4 linked regions of the Homo sapiens genome follow. The protein of the gene in region 3 purifies or fractionates together with the protein of the main gene of each other region. This does not show direct contact. Each region holds a gene or a part of one and is shown on either strand. Other genes may lie near its edges.

Region 1 (7,035 bases), on a different chromosome or scaffold from region 3:
AAAAAATTAGCCAGGTGTGGTGGCGGCCAGAGGCTTAGGCAGGAAAATTGCTTGAACCTGGGAGGCAGAGGTTGCAGCGAGCGGAGATCACGCCACTGCACACCAGCCTGGGTGACAGTGACAGACTCTGTCCCAGAAAAAAAACCAAACCAAAACAAAACAAAACAGTCCAAGATGTAGGCACACCTGGGCAACATGGGGAAGGGGGAATGTGAACCAAGGAAGATGGGAAATGAAATCCCAGGACCTGGAGGCCAGAAAGTGGGGTCCCCGGATCTTCAGCCAGGAGCTTCCTGCCCTCATCCCACTAACAGCAGAGGCCATGTCCTCGACATCACATCGGGGCCTCCAACACCTACCAAAGGAGCCTTTGGGACAGGGAGCAGCAGCAGGCAGCCCGAAGCGGGTACGGGGCCACCAGATCCCAGCCTCAATCGCTCGTGGGCAGCTGTCATAATTCACTGCGGGGAAGAGCACATGGTCACCCAGGAGCAGCTCTCCCTCTGCTGTCCTGCCCAGGCTCCCCAGCCCTCCCTAGGCCTCCCCAGGCCTCCCCAGGCCTGCAACCAGCCCCTTCCTGGCTTTCCTGGGGTGCAGGTGCCTAGCACACTGTAAGGAGGGCTGCCCACCCATCCCAGGAGCCCCACCTTCACAGCCATTGGTGGTGACCTCAGCAAAAGGGTTGTCACAGCGGTCACACTGACGCCCGATGACACCTGGCTTGCATGGACACTGGCCATCCTCAGGGTCACAGACTCTGGACAAGGAGCCTGTGGGGTAGCAGTCACACAAGAGGCAGGTGGGGCTGCCTGGGGGCCGGTAGTGGTTCTCCTGAGAAAGGAGGGAAGAACGGTGTCACTGGCCAGGCTCTCTTCCCAGGATGCTCATGGGTCCTTCTCAGCTGTGGCCCCTGTGGAGAGGGTCCCGACCTCAGGTCCCCTCAGGAGCAGTATTCAAAATAATTAACACTAGCAATGCTTTGGAGTTGAGCCCATCAGCGAGATGTCACAGAATCAGAACAGGCTGCAAACCACCACCACACCAGGCCAGAGCTCATGGGTTACACATTGGCCCAGGGTCCCCCTGCGCCTCAGACACACGAAGGTAAGCAGCCAACTGCCCTGCCTGTGAGAGCAAAGGCACAAGGCCCTCAGCTCTACAGGAAGACCCATCCCTACAGCCTGCCCTCTAGGGCCCAGGAGATGTGGACAGAGGCCCAAGTGGCCACAGTGGAGGCTTGCTTGGGGCTGTCACCTTGCAGTGGCACTCGCCGCTTGTCTTGTTGCAGTCTGGGTCAAAGCCTTTGCTGACATCACAGTTGCATGGGCCACATGTGGGATGTCCCCACCAGCCACGGGGACAAGGCTGGTCAATCCTGCAGAGAGGGACCCAGGTAGGCATGAGCTCCCCCTGCCACTCCCACCTAACCTAGGTGAGCCCTATGTGGCCCTTCTGACCCTGGCTGTGGATCAGCCAGGCTTTCGGGGCTCTGAGGGACACACCAGAGAGAAGCAGCAGCCACTGGGACCTGCTGCCACATGCCCTGGTCTGCTTACCTGGTCTCACAGTATGGCCCAAGGTAATTTGGGGGACACTCGCAGGTATAGCCATGGGGGGCACTGGGCTTGCGGGTACACACAGACTGGTGCTCACACGGGTTCAGGTCACACACATTAGTACAGTTGTCACCATAGTAACCTGGGACCAGAAGGACCAGAGAGGCTCATTCCCCCACCCTCCCCTGGCACCATCTTCCATCAAACCCTTCATCTGTTTCTTTCCACATAGCATCCTATCAGCTGGCTATGGCTTTGTTGTGTAGGCAACTAAGACTCAGAGAGGTGGTGTGATGCCCCATGCCCCAGGTCACACAGCAGAGCCAGCATGTGGCCCCAGGCACCTGATAACCTGCCCGTTGCCCTGGATCCTTAGCATACCTGGATCACAGCTGCAGGAATAGCTGTCCCAGTCGTTGCTGCAATAGCTGTTAGCAGGACACGGGTTTGAGTCACAAGGGTCAGGCAGGCTACAGCCTTGCTCCACGTTGATGCTCTCCCCATGGCTGGGATCCAGGCTGTTAACCCCCTCCGGCGTATCGCTCACCCGCACACCCTGGGAGGGACAGGAGCAGTGTTGCCCTCAGTGGAGCGGGGCTGCAGGTGGTGGGGGAGGGGATGGGAGGGCAGGGCAGGACACTCACCTGCAAACAGCCCCGAAAGCCACGGGCCACACCGCCGGCTGGCCCAGGTATTCCGCCCACTGTTATGTTGCTCAGGTGCAGACCATGCAGCCGGGGGCCCAGGTTGCCCTCTGCTCTCTGCTGCCCATAATCGAAGGACAGAATGGCATGGCCGGGCCCCCCGCTGGCTCCCAGTGCCAGCTGTGCATGGTGCCAGTCACCGTCATTGGCCCGGCCTGGCTCCAGACGGAGAGAGGAGGCCTGAAGCCCTGTGCCCTCCACGCTCAGCATCACGTGGCCCTCTCGTAGCTGACACCAGGAGGAAAGAAAACAGGGTCAGCAGACGGCCTTAATCACTGTTCTCCAGCTCACAGTTCCCCTTTCTGGACCATCAAACCCATCCCGCTGCCCAGCTGAGGCCATAGAGAGGAAAGCGTATTTATTTCCCTCAGGCCCAACAGGTGGCAGCATTGACCTTCCCAACGGATCCAGCGGCCTCTATATGTCCCCACCCCTGCCCAGGACCTGCCCAGCCACTTCTGTCCAGCCGCCTAGAGGCTACCAGGGCCCTATGGCCAGGCCAGGGCCAGCCGCCCTTCCATGCATCACCTGTAGGGTGATGGTGCTGCGCCCCCTGGTGATGGCCTGCAGCAGGACACCGTCGGCCTGGCGCGTGCGGAACATGAGGCTGAGGTACCAGGGTTGGGAGATGGGCAGCGAGAGGCCATGCCAGGCCACCAGGCTGCTGCCCAGGAAGTGCTGTGGATTGGCCATTTCTGGGGAGGCAGGAAAAGGCAGACTGTGACGGGTGGAGCCTCAGAGGGCCCTGGGGCTGTGATGCTCAGCGGTGGCGGCTGCACGGGAGGCAGAGCCCACTCCCCTCATCAGCCCCGCCCTCCAAAGTGCGTACCTGCCCTGGGACCGCCCCACGCTGTGCCCAGGCCTGCCTCTGACTGGCCCCTTTGTCTCCTGTGTTGCCCTTTCAGGGCTCTGCCCAGACACGCTTTTCCACCCACAGCCCCGCTCAGCAGAGCCCTGCCCAGTGCCTGCCCCAACCCTGCCAGTTCCCAGACTGTTGATGGCACCCAGGCTGTGGCCTCTAACAGCCGCCCCTCCTACCCTGGGCGCAGCTCTTGCCCCCAAAGCCCAGGGGGCACTCGCAGCTGAACGCGTCCCACTGGTTCACGCAAGTGCCCCCATTGTGGCAAGTGTTGCTGTCACACACGTTCTTCTTGGCAGGGCAGCCTGGAATGGAGAGAAGGCAGCTCAGTGGACCTGAGCTGGGGCTCTAAAGAGAAAGCCTGTGGCAGCAGTTAGAGAGGCCTCTGAGACCCTCCATTCTGGCATCCTCACACCAGGCACAGCCCCTCCTCTCAGCACTGGGATCCCAGCCTGGCTCCACCCCGGGCCCCCATACCAGGCACGGTGCCATTGTTGGCAATGAAGTCAGCCATGTCTATGTGCCGGCTGTCCACCTGCAGGTTCCGCATGCAGCCCACGAACTGCCGCATTCGGACTGGGAAGCTCTCGGGCAGGTCAGGCACCCCGCCTAGTAGCAGGGGCCCCGTCAGATCCAGAGACCTGGGGGAGCAAAGATGGTGGCGGCACAAGGGAGGGCTGGGAGCTTCTGGTCCTCCGCTCGCTCTGCCGCCAGGCCAGAGACACGAACGGCGTAGGCAGGTGTCCAAGAGGCCCTGCAGAGCAGTGCTCAGGAAGGGCGTCACCCCTACCTGGAACTGTTCTTGTCGAACACTCAGCCCCCTCCCCAGACTGCCCCACAGGGCCTTGCTCTGATTCCCCAGTCTTGACCCCATCCCCAGGGCTGAGCAGGGGCTAAGAGAGGCAAAGGGAGAGAGACCCCAAAAGCCCACCCTCTCCACCTTCCCTCCCTGCCTGGCCCTGCCCTCACTTCACCCCATCCCTGGCCCTTTCCCCTGCTCACTTCTTGCTGCCACCCTGGGTGCCCTGGGCAGCACAGGAGTAGTTGCCCAGGACAGATCCGAAGCGCAAGGCCACTCCTGTGTCACAGCCATCCACGGTCACCACAGCCACCTTCTGCTCTGATGGGCCCTGTGGGAGCCCTGTCTGACCCAACAGTGGCTGTGGACAGGAAAGAGCAGAGAAGGGGGACACTGAGTACAGAGCCCACTAGGTTCATGGCCAGCACACACTGGGTGCCTCTGTGTGCACCCACATGCCCAGACACACGTACACACATGCATATACACACACGTGTGCTCACGTGGTTTATGCATGTAACTACCTTCCTCAGTGTCCAAGTTTGCGGCTGCCTAGTGGAACAGAGAGCATCGAGCAGTGCCCAGTGGGGTGGGAATGCCCAGCAAGGTGGCACCTTCCCAGCCGCTCCCTTCCTCTCAGCCAGAAATGCCCTGACCAGCCCACCCAAGCCTGGAGGCAATGCCACTCAGGGCTGGGTAAGCACCTGAGGCAAGAACAGAACCCCCAACCCTCTGTGCCCTCCACACCCACCTTATTGTAGTATTTCAGCTGCACCGTATGCCACTGGCCATCACTGACTCCTCCGGGCACGAATGGGGACACCGTGGTGGTTGACTCCCCTGGGGAAAGGACCAGGTGAGCTGGAATGCCTGACGAGGGCTAGGAATGGCAGGGTTTGGGGTGCCAGTGGCTGGGGCTGGGCCCAGATTTGGCTGATAGAGTATGTGGCTTGGGGTCAGGGGCTGGAAGACTTGGGGCCTTTGGAAGATGGGCAAGGATGGGGGGCAACTGTGATCACCTGCAGAGAAGGTGAGCTGGACCTGCTCCTGGATCACCTCGAGGGCCACAAAGTCATGCTTCTCATTGAAACGCCCATTGTACAACAGCAACCCGTCGCGCTCCTTTGTGGCAAACCTGAACAGGAGTTGGGGATGGGGGCAGGGAATGGGGTACCCACCTGGATGCCAGCACCCCCGCCACCTAACCAGCGCAGGGGAGGGAGATCTGCTGGCAGAACCACAGGCAACTCCAAGAGCAGACCTGGCTCTGCCGGCAGCCTGCTCCACGCTTTCACTGCCTGACCTCTTACTTCAACCACAGAACAGGAGGCACCTCAGATGCCCACCAGGCCCACTCCCCACCCCCAGTGCCCAGCCACTCACGAGAGGGCCAGGGTGAAGTGGAAACGCTGGCGCAGGCCGCGAAAGGTGATGAAGGAGTGGGCGGGGAAGCTGCGCGTGGTCACCTGGCAGTAGGGCTTCTCGAAGTCTCCAGATGGGCAATCGCACTTGAAACCGCCCACCAGCAGGTTGACACAGGTGCCCCCATTCTTGCAGACACCCGGGGTGCAACGGCCTGAGCGAGCACTCACCTCACAGTGCTCACCTGGACAAGAGGAAAGGCAGGTGAGTACCAAGTACCTGAGGACAGGAGGGGAACTGAGACCCCCCACAACCCAGTGATAGCTCCCATGGCCTCCCGTGACCCTCGTAATACTCCCCAAACCTCCCAGGCATCCCCACTTCCTCTCGTGTGCCATCTTCTCTGAGACCTATGGTCCCCAGCCCTTCATGGGCACCCTGTTTGGCTCACTGAGCCGCTCTCGCCACAGCTCCACGCACTGCTCCCCTGCAAGTTCCTCGGAGTCCCCAGCACCTTCCCTACCCCATTTGGGTTTCATAAGCACAGGCCTGCTGGGACACTTGGTTGTAAGGCCCGGATCCCGGGAGCCTTCGATGTCACACTACCAAGCACACCTGGGGGTGTCCTGGCCCCCAAGAGGGTAAATGTGCACAAGCAGATGGGCCTGCAGGACAGCGGGAGGGCTGGGAGCCTCCCTCCTCCCTCCTTCCCACTGGTGCTTTTGTCCCTCTCAGGCACTGAGATCAGTTTCCCTCCCTGGGGATGGGACCAGGCTTCCACTTAGATTTGTCTGGGTTATGGAAGAGTATGAGAGAGAAGCTGGGGAGCCCCCAGGAATGGGGCAGAGGACTCCCACCTTGAGCCCTGCGGTCCAGACTAAGGACCTCTGTGCACCTGGGACATGCTGAGAGTGGGAAACTGAGCCCTGAGAGCAGACAAGAATTCAACAGAGGAGCTGAAAACTCCAACATCAGATGGGAAAATCCACCCTTCTCTCCCTCCCCATTCCCAGATTCTAGAGATAGGTTCTCAGCTCCTGTGCCTAGTGACTGGCTCTTGTTTCCATGGAAACTGTTGTTCGCCTGCTCTAACCCCCCCCCTCCCAACCCCCCCCACCATCCTCCTGGACAAAGACTTCTCTCCCCTCCCCCAAGCCCGTCCCTCCCCTTCCCCCCACCCCTAGCAGCAGCAGAGAGAAGTCAAGTCTGGCAAGTTCTGGGCAGGAAGATGCAGCGGGGAAGGAGTGGGGCCTGCCTATGGCTGCTGGCAGAGCCAGTGGGCATGGCCCTGGAGGACAAGGAGCAGGGCCTGGGCATCTAGGAAGGAAAGGCCCACAGGGAAGGGGAGCAGGGGGTGTCCTGAGAAGACACAGGAGCCTGAAGGGAGGGGTCAGGAGCATAGAGCAGAGACAGTGAGCATCCCAGGGAGCAGGATGTGTAAAGACCTTGGCTGACAGGCCAACAGGGAAGCCGCCTAGCCAGGATCCTCTTTTACCAGCAGCTGGGCGGAGGCGGAGCCATTCTGCCCAGGCCCATACAGGTGCAATGGTTTTCTGGAGCACCCCATCTCAGAACTCAACCCCCTCCAGTTCCCCCAGCTCTTCTGTGTCTTCCCCTTAATGCCTGGGGAGAAAAGTACTTGCTGCAGCTCAGAAAAGGAACTCGCTCAGTGGGGGAGAGACCAGGTTCTAGGCCCAGCCTCACCTCTAAACCGGGTGTGATGAGACCAGGAGCAAGTCACCCAATCTCAGCGTT
Region 2 (6,872 bases), on a different chromosome or scaffold from region 3:
ATTCCCACCTATGAGTGAGAATATGCGGTGTTTGGTTTTTTGTTCTTGTGATAGTTTAGTGAGAATGATTTCCAATTTCATCCATGTCCCTACAAAGGACATGAACTCATCATTTTTTATGGCTGCATAGTATTCCATGGTGTATATGTGCCACATTTTCTTAATCCAGTCTATCATTGTTGGACATTTGGGTTGGTTCCAAGTCTTTGCTATTGTGAATAGTGCCGCAATAAACATACGTGTGCATGTGTCTTTATAGCAGCATGATTTATAGTCCTTTGGGTATATACCCAGTAATGGGATGGCTGGGTCAAATGGTATTTCTAGTTCTAGATCCCTGAGGAATCGCCACACTGACTTCCACAAGGTTTGAACTAGTTTACAGTCCCACCAACAGTGTAAAAGTGTTCCTATTTCTCCACATCCTCTCCAGCACCTGTTGTTTCCTGACTTTTTAATGATTGCCATTCTAACTGGTGTGAGATGATATCTCATTGTGGTTTTGATTTGCATTTCTCTGATGGCCAGTGATGGTGAGCATTTTTTCATGTGTTTTTTGGCTGCATAAATGTCTTCTTTTGAGAAGTATCTGTTCATGTCCTTTGCCCACTTTTTGATGGGGTTGTTTGTTTTGTTCTTGTAAATTTGTTTGAGTTCATTGTAGATTCTGGATATTAGCCCTTTGTCAGATGAGTAGGTTGCGAAAATTTTCTCCCATTTTGTAGGTTGCCTGTTCACTCCGATGATAGTTTCTTTTGCTGTGCAGAAGCTCTTTAGTTTAATTAGATCCCATTTGTCAATTTTGGCTTTTGTTGCCATTGCTTTTGGTGTTTTAGACATGAAGTCCTTGCCCATGCCTATGTCCTGAATGGTAATTCCTAGGTTTTCTTCTAGGGTTTTTATGGTTTATGTCTAACATTTAAGTCTTTAATCTATCTTGAATTAATTTTTGTATAAGGTGTTAGGAAGGGATCCAGTTTCAGCTTTCTACATATGGCTAGCCAGTTTTCCCAGCACCATTTATTAAATAGGGAATCCTTTCCCCACTGGTTGTTTTTCTCAGGTTTGTCAAAGATCAGATAGTTGTAGATATGTGGCGTTATTTCTGAGGGCTCTGTTCTGTTCCATTGATCTATATCTCTGTTTTGGTACTAGTACTAAAGTAGATTCTTTTACTAAAAAGGCAGAAGGCCTTGCTTTTAGACAGCTTGGCTAAGGATTCTTGAATGGCTCAAAAGTGGCAAAATAAAAGATAACTCAAATAATTCAGACACTCTTAAAGCCATTCTTCTGTGTCTGGATCGTGGTGTGATGAATATAACATAACTTTCAGGCAAATGGGTCGTGAGGTGGTGATTGGGCCAAATGGATTTAGGTCAGTCCTGGAAAGAACAGAGCCTGAGTCCCCTGTCTACCCAGGAGCTCCTGAGGCTACCTCCTCCTCCTTCAGCGAGTTTGGGTTTAGGGCAGGGGTGTGGCTTTGCCGAATATGGACCTGAGTTCAAATATTTGCTCCACCACTCATTAGCTTTGCTAGTGCTGTGACCTGAGGCAGGTCGCTTGGCCTCCTTGGGCCTCCTCAGTTTCTTCCTTTGAAAAATGAGGATGATAATGTGCACCTTGTAGGACTATTGCGAAGCTTAAGTGAGATAAGTGCCTGACAAGTAGTAGGTGCTCAATAAATGGGACTGTCATTAGGTAACATAAGCATCACTTGGGGAAGCTACTCTGCCTGTGCTGTCAAGTAAGAGATTCCCTTCCATGCTGCCCCCTCCACGCATTTCAAAGCTGAATAGCTCAGATTTGGGGCAGGCAGCTATTTTGGATATAAGATTAGTTTGAGAAGACTTCCTGGAGGAGGGGAGTTTGAGGTCAAGTAAGGAAAATGGGAGAGATGGCAGTCTCAGCAGGGTTGAGCTGAGTGGCTTAGACCCCTGTCTGTCCTTATCCCTAGGACTGCGCCCGGGGCACGGCCAACTGTGTGGTGTTCAGCTGCCCACTCTACAGCTTTGACCGCGCGGCTGTGCTGCATGTCTGGGGCCGTCTCTGGAACAGCACCTTTCTGGAGGTGAGGATACCACTCGGCTCTAGTCTGTGTTTCTTCTTCCTCCAAAGCCCCTCCAGGACTCATTTCTCCTCCTCCTTCCTCACTGTCCAAATGCAGCATCCCCCCCCTTTTTTTTTTTTTTGAGACGGAGTCTTCCTTTGTCCCCCAGGCTGGAGTGCAGTGGTGCGATCTCAGCTCACTGCAACCTCTGCCTCCCAGGTTCAAGAGGTTCTCCTGCCTCAGCCTCCTGAGTAGCTGAGATTACAGGCACGTGCCACCACACCCGATATTTTTGTATTTTTCATAGAGACGGGGTTTTGCCATGTTGGCCAGGCTGATCTCAAACTCCTGACCTCAGGTGATCCACCCTCCTTGGCCTCCCAAAGTGCTGGGATTACAGGTGTGAGCCACTGTGCCCAGCCCAAACGCAGCATACTCTTAACCCAAACCAGGCAGAAACATCCTCTGTGTTGGGCACCATTACATTTATAATTTCAGGAGGTAAGGGGAAGGGAGGGAGACATGGGGCATTTAGGAGAAGGGTCTCCTTCCCTGTTCCCTTAGGAGTACTCAGCTGTGAAGTCCCTGGAAGTGATTGTCCGGGCCAACATCACAGTGAAGTCCTCCATAAAGAACTTGATGCTCCGAGATGCCTCCACAGTGGTGAGCTGCAGGGTTGGGGGATAGGTGGGGAGGACTCTCTTCTTTCCTGCTCCCTCCAGTTCTTGTTCCATTGACCTCTTGCTCCATTGACCCCTTGCTCCCCAGATCCCAGTGATGGTATACTTGGACCCCATGGCTGTGGTGGCAGAAGGAGTGCCCTGGTGGGTCATCCTCCTGGCTGTACTGGCTGGGCTGCTGGTGCTAGCACTGCTGGTGCTGCTCCTGTGGAAGGTGAGGCTTGGAGGTGGGGCTGATGGGGGTGGACTTCCTGGTTGGGTGAGCAGCATTTTGTATTGTGGTTCTGTCACCCACCCACACACTCATGTATTCAGCAAATCTGCACTGAACACTTGCCCTGCATGTCTCAGGAACTCTATTAGTCCCTGGATGTTTCAAAGATAAATCAGATGCAGGCTGGGTGCAGTGGCTCATGCCTGGAATCTCAGCACTTTGGGAGGCCTAGGCAGGTGGATCACTTGAGGTCAGGAGTTCGAGACCAGCCTGGACAACATGGTGAAACCCCATCTCTACTTAAAATACAAAATTAGCTGGGCGTGGTGGCACGCACCTGTAGATCCAGCTACTTGGGAGGCTGAGGCAGGAGAATCGATTGAACTCGAAAGGTGGGGTTGCAGTGAGCCGAGATGGCGCCATTGCACTCCAGCCTGGGTGACAGAGCGAGACTCCATCTCAAAAAAAAAAAAAAAAAAAAAAGCCGGGCATGGTGGCTCATGCCTGTAATCCCAGCACTTTGGGAGGCTGAGGTGAGTGGATCACCTGAGGTCAGGAGTTCAAGACCAAGCTGGCCAACATGGTGAAATCCTGTCTCTGTTAAAAATACAAACAAATAAAAAAAATTAGCTGGGCATGGTGGGGGGTGCCTGTAATCCCAGCTACTTGGGAGGCTGAGACAGGAGAATCGCTTGAACCCGGGAGGTGGAGGTTGCAGTGAGCCAAGATTGCGCCACTGCACTGCAACCTGGGGGACTGAGCAGGACTCTGTCTCAAAAAAAAAAAAAAAAAAAAAAAAAAGAAATCAGATGCAGATCTCGTTCTCAGGGATTTTATAGTCCAGTGGGATGGGAGTGGTGAGCCTGTAGTCAAGGACAAGGCAGGAAGTGTTGAGTTGAGAAAATGGAGTGGGAGTTTAGAGGGAAAAAAGCTTGAGAGGAGGTAGCACTGGAACCAGTCCTCAGAGGAAGGTGGGGTAGTAGGGTGAGGATGTAAGGGGATGAGGTAGGTGGGGTCCAGCAGGACCATGGTAGGCAAAGTCGTGGAGGCAGAGAAGTGTGATCTGACTTAACTAGAATGTGGCAGTGAAAACTGGAAAGGTAAATGTGGCCAAGAAGGCCAACAAGCACGGAGAACGGCCTCCAGGGGACTGCCCTCATGGCGGAACTCAGAGCTTCCACATACCAGGCTCTGCATGGAAGCATTCTTGTACACCCAGAGCTGTATACCGAATCATACTGGTATCCAGGGCTCAATGTAAAAGTATGCACATGCACACGTCAGTACACGGAATCACATACATCACCGGGGTCATATGCTGAGCCATCTGCCACATCGGGGGCTATGTTCAGAACCACACATGTCCTTGGGGCTCTGGAGAACTGCCCCTGCCTGTGCCTGCTCTTTGGGACCAATCAGAGACTGAGCCACCCTTTGGCAAGTGTGAATCATCAGTAGACCAGGCTCTGGAGTGGCATCCAAGCTGTTGGGAACCTTCCCAGTCTTAGGGGAGATTGATGCCTCTGTGAAACTGGTCCCAGGATGCTTGCTCCCTGCTCCCATGGAAGGAAGACAGAGCAGAGATAGGGGATCCTGTCCTTCCTCAATCTTTCCATCCTCTGCTTCCTCTGCCCTGCTTCTCCCTCGACATCCTAGTGTGGCTTCTTCCATCGGAGCAGCCAGAGCTCATCTTTTCCCACCAACTATCACCGGGCCTGTCTGGCTGTGCAGCCTTCAGCCATGGAAGTTGGGGGTCCAGGGACTGTGGGGTAACTGTTGTGTGTGTGCATGTGTCTAGTGTGTGTGGGTATGTATGTGTGTGAATATAAGGAGAATTCCCAGCATTCAGGGGATCAGGAATGTTCAGGGTGAAAAATGAGATTGCATGAGAGTGATGTGAGGTGAGAGGTAATTAGAAGGGTGCAGATATAAGGGTAAGTCTACACAGCCTGAGGCGTGCACAAAGGGTTGGTGGGCTCATGGGGTGTGAGCATGTGGGAGTGTGGGGAGGTCGCATGCATGCTTTTTTCTATGGGCATGAGTGTGCAAGGAGATGAATGTGTAAGGAGATGCCATGCAGTCTGAGCATGTAGGAGTCCTGGGCCTCTGAGTGTGAGTGTGCAGGGGCACATTCCCACCCTGGTGTGTAAGGGCCAGCATGGTCCTCATTTAGGGTGGGGCTAGACTACTGTATTGATGGACAAGAGGGTATTGCTGTAAGGGGCGTGCCGCCCAAGGTACAAGTACACGGGGTGCATGTTTATGAGGCTTGAGAGGTATCATTCCAGAGATGCAGGGGACTAGGAAGCCATTTTCTTCCTCAGGTCTTGTTTGTGTTCTGGGGGACACTATTGGGTCTCTTAAGAAGCTAGAGGGGGTACAAATCTTGAGTCCGGTCCTGATGCTCCACCCTCAAGGCCCTCTTTCAGGGGCCAAGGGAGATACCCTTGGTCCTGCCTCTTGGACGCCCTTCTGGTCTCTCTCTTGCTGTGAATGAGAACCTGGGGACACAGCACTGATGGGAGCACCGTGGGTGCTGCCCACCACACCAGATGCTATTCAGCCTATTTCCTTTCTGCCGCAGCAGGGATGGTGAGGGTGAGGAGCTGTGCCGCGCTAGGCATCTGCTCCAGGGACCGCAGCTCTTCAGGCTCCTCATGGTCTGGCCTGGTGTCCTTATAGATGGGATTCTTCAAACGGGCGAAGCACCCCGAGGCCACCGTGCCCCAGTACCATGCGGTGAAGATTCCTCGGGAAGACCGACAGCAGTTCAAGGAGGAGAAGACGGGCACCATCCTGAGGAACAACTGGGGCAGCCCCCGGCGGGAGGGCCCGGATGCACACCCCATCCTGGCTGCTGACGGGCATCCCGAGCTGGGCCCCGATGGGCATCCAGGGCCAGGCACCGCCTAGGTTCCCATGTCCCAGCCTGGCCTGTGGCTGCCCTCCATCCCTTCCCCAGAGATGGCTCCTTGGGATGAAGAGGGTAGAGTGGGCTGCTGGTGTCGCATCAAGATTTGGCAGGATCGGCTTCCTCAGGGGCACAGACCTCTCCCACCCACAAGAACTCCTCCCACCCAACTTCCCCTTAGAGTGCTGTGAGATGAGAGTGGGTAAATCAGGGACAGGGCCATGGGGTAGGGTGAGAAGGGCAGGGGTGTCCTGATGCAAAGGTGGGGAGAAGGGATCCTAATCCCTTCCTCTCCCATTCACCCTGTGTAACAGGACCCCAAGGACCTGCCTCCCCGGAAGTGCCTTAACCTAGAGGGTCGGGGAGGAGGTTGTGTCACTGACTCAGGCTGCTCCTTCTCTAGTTTCCCCTCTCATCTGACCTTAGTTTGCTGCCATCAGTCTAGTGGTTTCGTGGTTTCGTCTATTTATTAAAAAATATTTGAGAACAAAACCTCTGCCTCTTTGAGTCTTGCTCTGGCATCCCCAGCATCTCTGATTCTCCCTGGTGCCCCCAGCTCAGGAAGAAGGTGGTAGTGGGGAGAGAGGGTCAGGGGGGCTTGGCAGGGATGCAGGCACCATGACTTTTGTGACCAGTTCCTAGAGACGCATGGGTGTAGCCTCAGGAGGAAAGCGAGAGGAGCTTTACCATGGGAACGAAGGAAAGGGACAACATTGGGAGGCAAACGTTGGGAGACTAGTCCAGAAACTTGCAGTTGAGGATACAACAGGGTCCTAGTGTTTCCTCCCTGGGTCAGCGTAGAAGTAGAGCTTTTTCACTGTCGAAGGCGGGATTGAAGTTAGAGATTGCCCTGGCAGAGGTTGGGGAGAGAGGGACTAGTAGGTGGTACATGAATGTCTTCTCTCATTCTGCTAGGTCCCTCTCAGTGGAAGATAGATAGGCTGGTGGGTGGCTTGTTCTAATTGGAGGCTGGGGAAGGAGCAAATGAGTGCCTTGGAGCTTGGGAAAGATTATTTGACA
Region 3 (3,700 bases):
GAAATAAGAAATAAAATATGACTAGTAAGAGATGTTTCCTCCATTGCTACATATCAGTTATAAATGAAAAGTTTTGGGGGTTAAATGATCTTAGTCTCTTAGCTCAGATGCCTCTCGTACAAAAGGAATTTCCAATAAAAATATATTTACTTTTTGTAACAAACATTGCTGCCTCATATACTTATTATTTTATTTATTGAAATTCTCAAATTGAAGAAAAATAAGATAAATGAGTTAATTAATACAAATCTAAAAGAACTTGGTTGTTTGCATTCAATGTCTTTTTTGTAGAGTATTTTTGTTTTAAAAATTATTGCAAGCTATTGCAACACAGCTAACAGAGGATTTGTTATAAATCTGTAGTAAAATGAAAATTTATAATGATATTAAATCTATAATAAATTAATATGCATGTGCACATACATGGGTGCAAATTTTCATATGAACTTACATCAAACATTTAGGCATACTCTCTTTCTACTATATATATGTCTATAACTACACACACATTTAATAATTTACCCAATGTTTAATTGAGTAATGAATTCATTTAATATAAACTTTAGTATAGCAGAATACTACAGGTTACCCACATTTAACCCTAAAAACAAACAAATGACAGGCACTTCAGTGAAATAACAAGCCCATGTTCAAATATAAAATGCTAAAAGTGAGAAAGAAATTATGAAAATATATACCTTTAATTTGCAGACATATAAACACTTTTGGTACAGTACAGATGCATGATGCCAAAAAGTAAAATGATCCAGTTTAAGCTAACACATTCCTTGTTTATACAGATTATTTTGCTATAGCTCTCATATAAAATAATATTTCCAGCTCACACAATGAATTGAAAGTGATAAATCACTGATGAAATAGCTTTCTTCATTGCAAGAGATTCAGTAAAAGCTAAATTATCAAAGAAATCTGCTGCAGGGCTTACAAATAAACTGTTGGATTTAATCCAAAACCAAAGAAAGGAAGCCAGAAATGGTAGTCAACAAACCTAAACAACAACAAAAAGATAAGTACAGTATAACTTTCATATAAAAGGCCCAACTAAAACAACCAGTAGTGTACACAAGCCTCTAGAAGAATTCACTTTTAATATGATTTCTATTTTCTTATGTGATGGATGATTTCAAGCCTATAAAAGTCTAATATATAACCCAAGTATAAAGTACGACCAACAAGTTGTGAAAGCACTAAAATGTCATGAATGCCTATGAAGCAACTAAAGATTGAAGCATTTCTTTGCTTCTGGCTGTTTTTCTTGGGCACAATATCTAGTTACATTTCCTGTAATGAAGAATATATATATGTATGTATAAATCTATTTCCCTTGTAATAATAACAAGTGCAGTGGTAAAGCAAACAGAAAGCAATTCGAGTACACAGAAAGTGGAATACTCTTCAGCAGGCTGAATCTGTAACACAAGGCAATGATTTTATCCTTGCTAAAAAGGAATTGCACTTCTTTTTAATGCCTTCTCTTTCACACTATATATGCACTTATGAGGTAATAAACATTCTGTTTACAAGTGCATTTCTTTTTTTATCATATGTTTAAATAGGGTGAAATTTAATTTACTTTAATTTCATATTTGTTTAATGTTAAAAACAATATATTTAAAATATACTCTTTCATTAATTTCATGTACAACTGCCAAGTACAATACCCCAGTTTCCTGCAAAGGAGCAGCTGATGCCCTCTTGTGGTGACAGGAATTTTTAGATAAAAATTTGTTCCATTTTTCTTACCTTACTCCCAGGTTTTATCAATCATCTGCTTGGTGTATGAAAGCTGCAAACCATGTCCAAGCTTTTTTTTTTTTTTTAAATACAAGTCCTATAGCTGTTAGTACTAATTTTCACTTAAAAATGCTGTACACATTTTATAACCTCTGAATTTAAATTTAAAAACCTGTAAACAGCTATTTACAATATAGAACAAGTTATAAATTAGTTGTCCTTCATTGGAACTGCCATCAACACACTCTTTTTTAGGTGATGAAGATCCAAAGTCAGTTAAAACATTTCTCTGTGTTATTCCACCATGAAATATCAAATATTAGAAATATCCATTGGCTTTCTCTCTCGCATATGCAAGTCAATTTTTCCTTTCAGTGGAATCTGTACTTCCAAATTTTCATCTTCCCTGGGATGCTTTTCCCCTTTCCTTAAACAGATGTATATGCCCATCCCTGTGACCAGTGTGATGGAACCCAAGCTTATTACAGACAGAGCTACTAAGGTGGGCATACAAGACACAGATTCTACCTTCCTATGAGTCGGTTCTATTGAGATTTGTGGTTCTTTCTCCTCTATATTAATCTCTGGTTCTTTTCTTAAAAGACTCTCAATGTAACTCTCATTACTGACAGTGTCATTGACAAATAGGTTCACCATGACTGTGGAGTGGAGAGGCTCGGGATAACCATGATCACTCACTTTCACCAGTAAGCGATGGAGCCCATAATCTGTCTGCAGCAATGCCTCTTCCAAAGTAATGTTGCCAGTTTTAGGGTCAATCCTGAAGGACTCAGGCCTAGGACCTCTTCTCCCTATGATGCTGTAAGCTATGACAGCATTCATGCCTGTGTCTTTGTCGACAGCATAGACTTCTGTAACCGGGGAGCCTGGCAGAGTAGAAGGCAGTACTAACAGATAAGACATATTAGACTGAGGAAACAAAACAAGAGGAGGGTTGTCATTGATATCTAGAAGGAGAATTGTGATTTTTGCTGTAGAGGAGAGGGCAGGCTCACCCCCATCAACAGCTTCAACCCACAAAGTATAGGAGCTTTGCTGCTCTCTGTCCAAAGAGACTTTAGCCCTCAGCATACCCTTTCCTGTATCTATGACAAAAATATCACTCTGGTTCACCACAGAGAGGGCGACCCATCCATTTCGTCCAGCGTCAGCATCTGTTACACTAATTACTCCAATCTCACCATAGCCTGGAAAGTTTTCAGGCACAAAAAAGCTGAAGTCCTTGTTGATAAACCGAGGACTGTTGTCATTTTTATCCAACACTGTGAGGGCCACAGTGGCTACTGATTCTCTGGGTGGCTTCCCACAGTCAACAGCTCTGACAGTGTATCTGTACTTTTCTTTCTCTTCTCGGTCCAGCTGAGTAGAAACTGTCAGAATTCCTGTGACACTGTCTAAGGAAAAATATGATGGAGCATCAGGTCCCAGAAAATATGAAACTTGGCCTCTCTCCTCGCTGTCGGCATCTGTAGCATACAGCTTAGTCAAAAAGGCATTGGGTGAGTTGTTCTCTTCGATGGTTAGTTCTATTAAGGGTTGAAGGAAAATTGGAGCATTATCATTGTCATCTAAAAGTTGCACTTTAATGACCCTTTTGACATGAAATCCCTCAGAGTTCCAAGCCACCACAGCTACTTCATAGAACTGCTGTAGCTCATAGTCCATAGGTTTTGTGGTCTCTAGTAAATATTCATTATTGTATGGTTTGTAAGGTGATAACCTAAACGGCCCTTCACCATCCAGGTAGCAGTTAACCTTGTATTTACCTTCTGGATCTCTTATGGTGAAAAACGCAATGGGAGTGTTAACGGGTTCCAGTTCTTTCAGATAAACCACACCATCTATCTCGTTTGCTATGTAACGAGGGACAATTTCAGGGGGTCTGAAAATAACTTTAATAATGGACACAAGAGCAGTGATTACA
Region 4 (7,035 bases), on a different chromosome or scaffold from region 3:
TTTATTATATCCAGACATAAAGGTGTTATCCCATTTTCTGGACATTTTAAATAATTTTTAAACCCTGTCCTTTCTGTTAATGTATTTCTTACCAGTAGGAATTTGGATACAAAGGTCTAAAAATCAGATTTGATACTACTACCACATTAACCTTTATATGATTCGGTTCATTATTCTCACCACAGCTACTTCTAAGGTTATTTCTGTTTAATAAGATTTTTAATTAGCCTGGTAAAAGTATACTTTTTTTGAGACAGGGTTGCCCAGGCTGGAGTGCAGTGGGATGCTAAAGGCTCACTGCAGCCTCAAACTCTTGGGCTCAGCCTCCTGAGTAGCTGAGACTACAGGCATGCACCACCACACCCAGCTAATTTTTGTATTTTTAGAGATGGGAGTTTGCCATGTTGGCCAGGCTGGTTCCAAACTCCTGACCTCAAGTGATCCACTTGCCTTGGCCTCCCAAAGTGCTGGGATTACAGGCATGAGCCACCACTCTGGGCCAAAAATGTAGATTTTGAGGGAAATTATCAGCTAAATAGTGTCAAATACGGACTATCCTTGGGACTTCTAAGCAGGAGAACTGAATGTGTAAAAACAATACTACAAGTACTTTATTGTTTTCTCTGCACTCACATAAAAATGTTGCAAGTGGGTATATAGGAGTGTCTATAGACCAAGAATTTTTGTTAATATACTAGTGCTCAAATTCAGAAAATAATTGTGGTCCATGGAATTGCCAGTACTTAAATTATTAAGGAAGCTGAGAAGAGTCTAATCCTCAAATTAAGCTAGGTCATATATTATCTGGGCTGTTCGGCCTCTGGGGTAAAAAAAAAAAAAAAAAATGGTGATCCTTACGGCAGCAATTGTGATGTCATTTTCAAGATTATGCTGTAAAATAACTCCCTCAGTAGCAATTAACACCTCAGAGTTCATTCATTTTATAAGTCCAAGGACAGCCCCTCTATTCCCTCAGTTACTTTAACTGCCCATCTTCAACTGTTACATTTTTCTCAATACATAGAAACCAGACTTGTATGCAGCATCACAGGGGCTTACTTCCTGTGCTTTTCTACAAAAGAAGAACAGAGTTAGTTTTCAGTGTTATTTTCAATACTCTTTCTGAAGATGCTCAGTATTGTGGGACATTTTAGATATAGCCATGTGTGGAATTAAAGGGTTCAGGGATTCCCCTATAATAACTCATGTGTGTCATCCTGGAATTTTAGTTTTCTTACTTTTCCTCATACTGTGCTTTCCTAATCTTACACTTCACCCTTATTGAAGTTTATCACTTTTCTGCCTGTTTACACGTTTGTTTGCACCTTGTATAATTTATATTTGTTTGCTTGACATCTACCTAGAATGATACCATCTCATTGGAGATTACTTCTTCTAAAAGAATATTTATTTCTCCACCTTCAATATGCATCAGAATAGAGCTCAACAATTGTAGATGCCTGGGCCCCACAGCCAGAGACTGGTGATGGGGAGCGGGCAGGCAGGCATTGCTGATTTTCTAAAAGTGAGTTAGGTGATTCCAGTGTGCAACCAGGATAGAAAGCCCCTAATTTAGGTAATTTATAAATGTACTCCTTAACATTGGTTGGGCCTGATCTTTCACTGAGTATTTCACTGTTAACACTTTGCTTCCCAATTCAGATCCATAAATTCTTAACCTGTTATCTTCTGAATTCCCAATTTATGGTGAAACTTAATTTTCCCAATTCCTCGCCAGCTCAGTATTTCTAACACTTGGTGTAATGTTTTGTTTGAGACATTTTTAAAACCTATTAATCATTGGCTCCTACTCATCCACAAACTTATGCTGCCACCGCCACTAACAACTCAATTATCTTTATGTCTACAAATACCCTGGCCCATCATAGTAAACACTTTAAATTCTTTGTTAAAGTGTTGTTGAAGATCATAGGTGTTCAATATATCTTTGTTGTTGACCCAGATGAAATCAGTCATGATTTATAGAAGTGATCCTATCCTTTATCATCAAATACAATTGGCCGTGGTTTGCTGACTCCTGTGTTAGCTATCCGTATTCTTAACATCTAATCCTTTTATCTCCCTGTATTTTAGTTGCTGCAGCAAACGAGATTGCTAAGGAAAGGAGGAAGCAAGATGTGGTTAATCGTGTTGCAACCCATTCCTCAAATATAAGATCGACATTTAAACCAGGTATAATTTCTCTGATGCTTTGATAGATGTCAAAGTGTCATATCTTTAAAATTTGATATCCTATTAATATCTAACTATATTCTTTTTTTTTTAGTAATCGATGGATCCATGCTTAAAAATGACATAAAACAAAGATTAGCAAGAGAGCGCAGAGAGGAGAAAAGGAGACAGCAAGACGGTATATTTTAGACCTTTTTTCAAAAATCAAAATGAATTGTGTTATATATTGCAAAGTGTTTTTAACTTATTCCTCCTAATTTGTTTATATGATAGAGTATAATTTTTATATTATGTATTATTTTGGATTAAATCCTTTTACTAAATCAGGCAAGAAGGCCCATGAAAATTCTTTGATTAAATTGTTTAATTTTTGAAGGAGTAGTTTATCTTAGCTTTGATTTTCTGAAAACTAAGGTCTGGAAATTTCTTCAATATTTGTAAAAACAATCAGAATGGGATTTCAGTAAAAGTGATTCTTTTTTTTTTGTTTTGTTTTGAGGCGGAGTCTTACTCTGTCACCCAAGCTGGAGTTCAGTGGCGCGATCTCAGCTCACTGCAGCCTCCGCCTCCCGGGTTCATGCCATTCTCCTGCCTCAGCCTCCCGAGTAACTGGGACTACAGTCACCCGCCACCACACCCGGCTAATTTTTTGTATTTTTGGTAGAGACGGGGTTTCATCGTGTTAGCCCGGGTGGTCTTGATCTCCTGACCTCGTGATCCACCCACCTCGGCCTTCCAAAGTGCTGGGATTACAGGCGTGAGCCACCGCGCCTGGCCAGTAAAAGTTATTCTAAAAATGAAAATAAATTGCCAATAATCCTAACATAGATAAGATGAAAAGCATGTTACCAAGTTGTAAAAAGATTATCCTTTTAGATCCTAATTTATACAGAGTCACACTTCAGAAGCATTTAGTGAGGGAAAATTTGAATATAGGAAAAATTTTGCTCTCCTGTAATATGGTATATGGTTAAGTCCATTAATGTAAAACTGGCATGTTTAATATGGTCTGTATAGATGAGGACTTTGAAAGAAGTTTCCTAGTAGAAGGGAACAAAACATGTATCCTGGCCATGCAGTTTTTAATAATTAGTATTTTAATGTACAGCATATTAATATGGTAGGGTTTGACTTTAGCTCAAATCAGCAGAAATATCACATGAAAGAAAATATTTTTTCTTAATTTGGAATTGTAGTTTGGACAGGATGAGAGTCATTTGGCACAGACAATCCAGTTCTCCAGAGTTAAATGAATACTCAGTGAAAATGGTTCTGCAGTGGCTACCTCTGTTCACTTTTATAATAAATCTTTAGTTACTAGCACAGGTTGTGTTATTTTAAGAAAGTGAATGAGATGTGTTAACTTTTTCCTTCTGTGTGTGTAATGTGGAAAACCTAAATATTTTCTTGGCTCTTACACCTTGAAAATGTATTTGGAATATTTCAGCCAATAAAGAAACACAACTACTTGAAAAAGAAAGAAAGACCAAGCTCCAATATGAAAAACAGATGGAGGAAAGACAGAGAAAGCTGAAGGAGCGAAAAGAGAAAGAAGAACAACGGAGAATAGCTGCAGAAGAAAAAAGACACCAGAAGGATGAAGCACAAAAGGTACATAATTTTGCAGCCTGTGCATGAGAGGATAAACTGTGTTGCCTGAGTCTAGAATATTGTTTTCTCAGGCCTTCTCTGCCTTACTTGCCCTGTAGAAAGGGAACCAATCCCAGCTCTTTCTTCTTCGCTTCCTCTTCCCCTCAGCATTATATAGGCTTTTACCCATGTCCTGATAAGATGCCAGGAGCTGAGACCCACTAGCCTAGGGAATGGGGAGACTTCCAAATCCAGGAACAAAGCCCCATCCACCTTCAGGACTTGGCACATGAGGTACCTGTGGCCTGGGGTTTGTTCTGAGTGGCTCTGTTTACTACCAAAAAGTATTCACTGTTGTCTCATTGCCTACAGAATAGGGGCAGACCCCACTGTCTGACCCTCCCTGACGTGCCCTCATCTGACCGATTTCTCACAACTCCTTTAAAAGTGTGACTCCCCAGCCAAATCAGGGCATTCGCTCTCCTTTTCAGCTTCCCTGGCTCCCTCTGGTGCACACTCACACTCTCTCCCTCTCTACCCTCTGTCTCCGTGTTCCTCACATTCCCTTTCCTGACAGGGCCCCTCTGGATGTGTGGTTCAGAGTCAGCATTCTTGCTCTTGTTTTGTGGCACTGCTCCTCTCTTTTCCTTTCTGGATTCTCTTTTGGTGTCTTTGGCACTCTGTTGGGATGAGTCTGTGGCTTTGTTATGCCCTCTCTTTTTCACTTCTGTCTTTCTTCAGTTTGTCTTTTGTGGTACTGGGCATCTGGCTACCTGTCTCATTCCGTATGATTCTCTCTGACACCAAATTTTTCTCTTGTAGGTCATTTCACTACTTGACTTGGAGTATGCTTCACTCCTTCTGAATCTAGCGTGGTCGCTGTGACACTGTCCTCTATCTTCCTGGCATTCTCTCTTTCTCTTTATTCCAGGGATTTTTTTTTTTTCTTTGAGACAGAGTCTCACTCTGTCGCCCAGGCTGGAGTATAGTGGCGTGATCTTGGCTCACTGCAACTTCTGCCCCCCCGGTTCAAGCAATTCTCCTACCTCAGCCTCCCAAGTAGCTGGGATTGCAGGCGCCTACCGCCACGCCTGGCTAATTTTTGTGTTTTTAGTAGAGATGGGGGTTCACTATCTTGGCCAGGCTGGTCTTGAACTCCTGACCTCGTGATCCACCCTCCTTGGCCTCCCAAAGTGCTGGGATTACAGGCGTGAGCCACTGTGCCCAGCCTATTATAGGGATTCTTAAGTGTCCCTAAATAAGCCTTAGTCTGTCTTTTGGTCTCTGACTCTGGCCTTTTTCTGCCTGAGGCAGCTTGATTTTCTTTATTCTGTCTTTGTCTTAGCTTCTGTCTGTTTTTCCCCATCTTTATATCCTCTGCCTGCCATTCTCTCAGTGTGTTGTATTTTTATTTCCCTCTCTTATTTTCTGTCACTCTAATATTTGCATTTCTTTTTCTCTCCTTTTCTCTTTGGTTCCATTTCTCCCATGAAGCTTCCTCTTGTCTTTCTCTGCGGTGCTCAGTTTCCTCCCTCCTCATCCATACCTTTGCTCTTGTACGTGCTTCCTCTCCAGCCCTGCACCCTATCTGGAGAGCTTCCTGATTCTAGGACACTTCTTGTGCCACTTTTTCCCCATCCATGGTGTACTATATCTCTCCCTTTCTGAACCCTTTTCTGTGGTTGTTTATGCTCTGTTTCATGCTCTAGTATTTGGTAGACTCTCATTCAGAATTTCTGTCACTTTCCATCATCTTCTTGAAACATCTCTCTTATTTTACTTTTCTGTGGTAAAGAGATGAAGGCCAGAGAAAGAGAGAGAATGAACTAAGTAATGATAAACGAAGAAAGAACCAAGAACTAAGTAAAGAACCAAAGAAAGTGAAATACAAACTGTGTGTAGAGTGAGTGGGAGTCCATGGAGGAGAGAGACAAGTCACAGGGACTGAGACCAAAAAATAAAGACTATCTTAGAGAAAGAGGAAGCTGCCAGAGAGAACACAGAGAATAGAAGAGAATGCAGCAAAATGACACTGCAGACAGAAAGGGAGCCACAGACATGGCAGGAGAAGGGGCAAAAGAAAACCCCAGATAGCTAGTGCGGGAGAGTCCCAGACAGAACAGGGGACATGGGACACTGTAAGTAGGCTACATATAGCAAAAGAGAGGAATTCTGGAGAGCAGAAAAAAAAAACCCAGACTCAGTGGTGCTGAGGAGGGATGAGTGTGGACAGGAGGTGTATATGAAATGGGATAGGAACTTCTATGTGAGCCCTGGGTGGCCACGATGTGAGAAGGGACCTGGAAGAGAGCACAGTAGGTAATGCATTTGGAAACAGTGGAATAGAATCAGAAATAGTTTAATAATACAAAGTTAATCTTTGTTTTTAGTCTATTATAGTTTCAGGGTTTCTAAGTAATTCAGAACAACTGCCTTTCTGTTAGAAAATATAATTTTCAAATGTTGCCCATTGTATCAACTTTATTTTAAGAATTGCGGTTGCTTTTCTTCTCAGAAGATATGGCTCATCTCCATTTTCCTAGTACGTTTATCTTTGCCATTGGTAGAAACAGTAGAGGCTTTGTAAGGATGGTGTTTGCTATGAAACGGTTGTTGTTAGGGAAAAATAGAAGATCTCTGGTCCTAAAAGTTGATTTGCTTACCTGAGTTCATGGTATGGCACAGTACAAGGATGAGAAATATTTGAGAGAAGAGCTCATTTCTGGAAGTGGAGTTGTTTTGCTGCAGCATGGTATTTACTTTGTATAGCTGTTGTCTTGACCAGCTAAAGTTGAGGTCAAGACAAATATATTGATTATCTTTTTTGAAACTTTATTTTTATTAGTTAACACCAGAATTTTAGCTGTTACAGATGTGAGTATACTAGATGATTCTGGTATAAATTTAACTTATATGTGTGCTGATTTTTCCCCTGCCTCATTCTACAAAGAATTTAAGGTGACTTAAAAATACATACCACACCAGATGATAAAAATAAATGGTTGGGGGAATCAAGCAGAGGGGAAAACTAACATAGGCAAATAAAACATAAGGTATGATTAGCATGCACAAAAGTATACCAATCAGTCTTTGTACAGTTGCTAGAAAGAGGCTACACATTTGGCTCTAAATTTCCTAATGATACAAACAAAGAGGAAAGCATGGTCATTTTCTTAATGCAAGGTCCATAAGATAAAAAAAAATGAGTTATTTAGGAGAAGCACTGGTATTGATTGATAGCTGAGACATATC

Evidence for each region.
Region 1: the proteins of PCDH20 (region 3) and CELSR2 purify together in Homo sapiens (co-immunoprecipitation; 3 studies listed by BioGRID and IntAct, with this or other methods). This does not show direct contact.
Region 2: the proteins of PCDH20 (region 3) and ITGA7 purify together in Homo sapiens (affinity purification with mass spectrometry; 2 studies listed by BioGRID and IntAct, with this or other methods). This does not show direct contact.
Region 4: the proteins of PCDH20 (region 3) and MAP7D3 purify together in Homo sapiens (co-immunoprecipitation; 3 studies listed by BioGRID and IntAct, with this or other methods). This does not show direct contact.

What each region holds. Positions count from the first base shown.
Region 1 is NC_000001.11:109,259,531-109,266,565, reverse strand, and holds part of CELSR2 (cadherin EGF LAG seven-pass G-type receptor 2 precursor), read right to left. Parts: intron 5,525-7,035; coding exon 5,302-5,524; intron 5,054-5,301; coding exon 4,938-5,053; intron 4,759-4,937; coding exon 4,670-4,758; intron 4,280-4,669; coding exon 4,122-4,279; intron 3,761-4,121; coding exon 3,597-3,760; intron 3,425-3,596; coding exon 3,299-3,424; intron 2,956-3,298; coding exon 2,789-2,955; intron 2,489-2,788; coding exon 2,201-2,488; intron 2,113-2,200; coding exon 1,938-2,112; intron 1,699-1,937; coding exon 1,557-1,698; intron 1,376-1,556; coding exon 1,255-1,375; intron 832-1,254; coding exon 648-831; intron 462-647; coding exon 360-461; intron 1-359. UniProt on the Homo sapiens protein: Receptor that may have an important role in cell/cell signaling during nervous system formation.
Region 2 is NC_000012.12:55,684,040-55,690,911, reverse strand, and holds the end of ITGA7 (integrin alpha-7 isoform 2 precursor), read left to right. Parts: intron 1-1,954; coding exon 1,955-2,068; intron 2,069-2,611; coding exon 2,612-2,710; intron 2,711-2,815; coding exon 2,816-2,941; intron 2,942-4,597; coding exon of another isoform or gene 4,598-4,710; intron 4,711-5,623; coding exon 5,624-5,854; 3' UTR 5,855-6,344; downstream 6,345-6,872. Other genes in the region: thiol S-methyltransferase TMT1B precursor, read right to left, coding at 6,863-6,872. UniProt on the Homo sapiens protein: Integrin alpha-7/beta-1 is the primary laminin receptor on skeletal myoblasts and adult myofibers.
Region 3 is NC_000013.11:61,409,176-61,412,875, forward strand, and holds the end of PCDH20 (protocadherin-20 precursor), read right to left. Parts: coding exon 2,068-3,700; 3' UTR 510-2,067; downstream 1-509. UniProt on the Homo sapiens protein: Potential calcium-dependent cell-adhesion protein.
Region 4 is NC_000023.11:136,241,401-136,248,435, reverse strand, and holds part of MAP7D3 (MAP7 domain-containing protein 3), read left to right. Parts: intron 1-2,094; coding exon 2,095-2,193; intron 2,194-2,287; coding exon 2,288-2,371; intron 2,372-3,640; coding exon 3,641-3,804; intron 3,805-7,035. UniProt on the Homo sapiens protein: Promotes the assembly and stability of microtubules.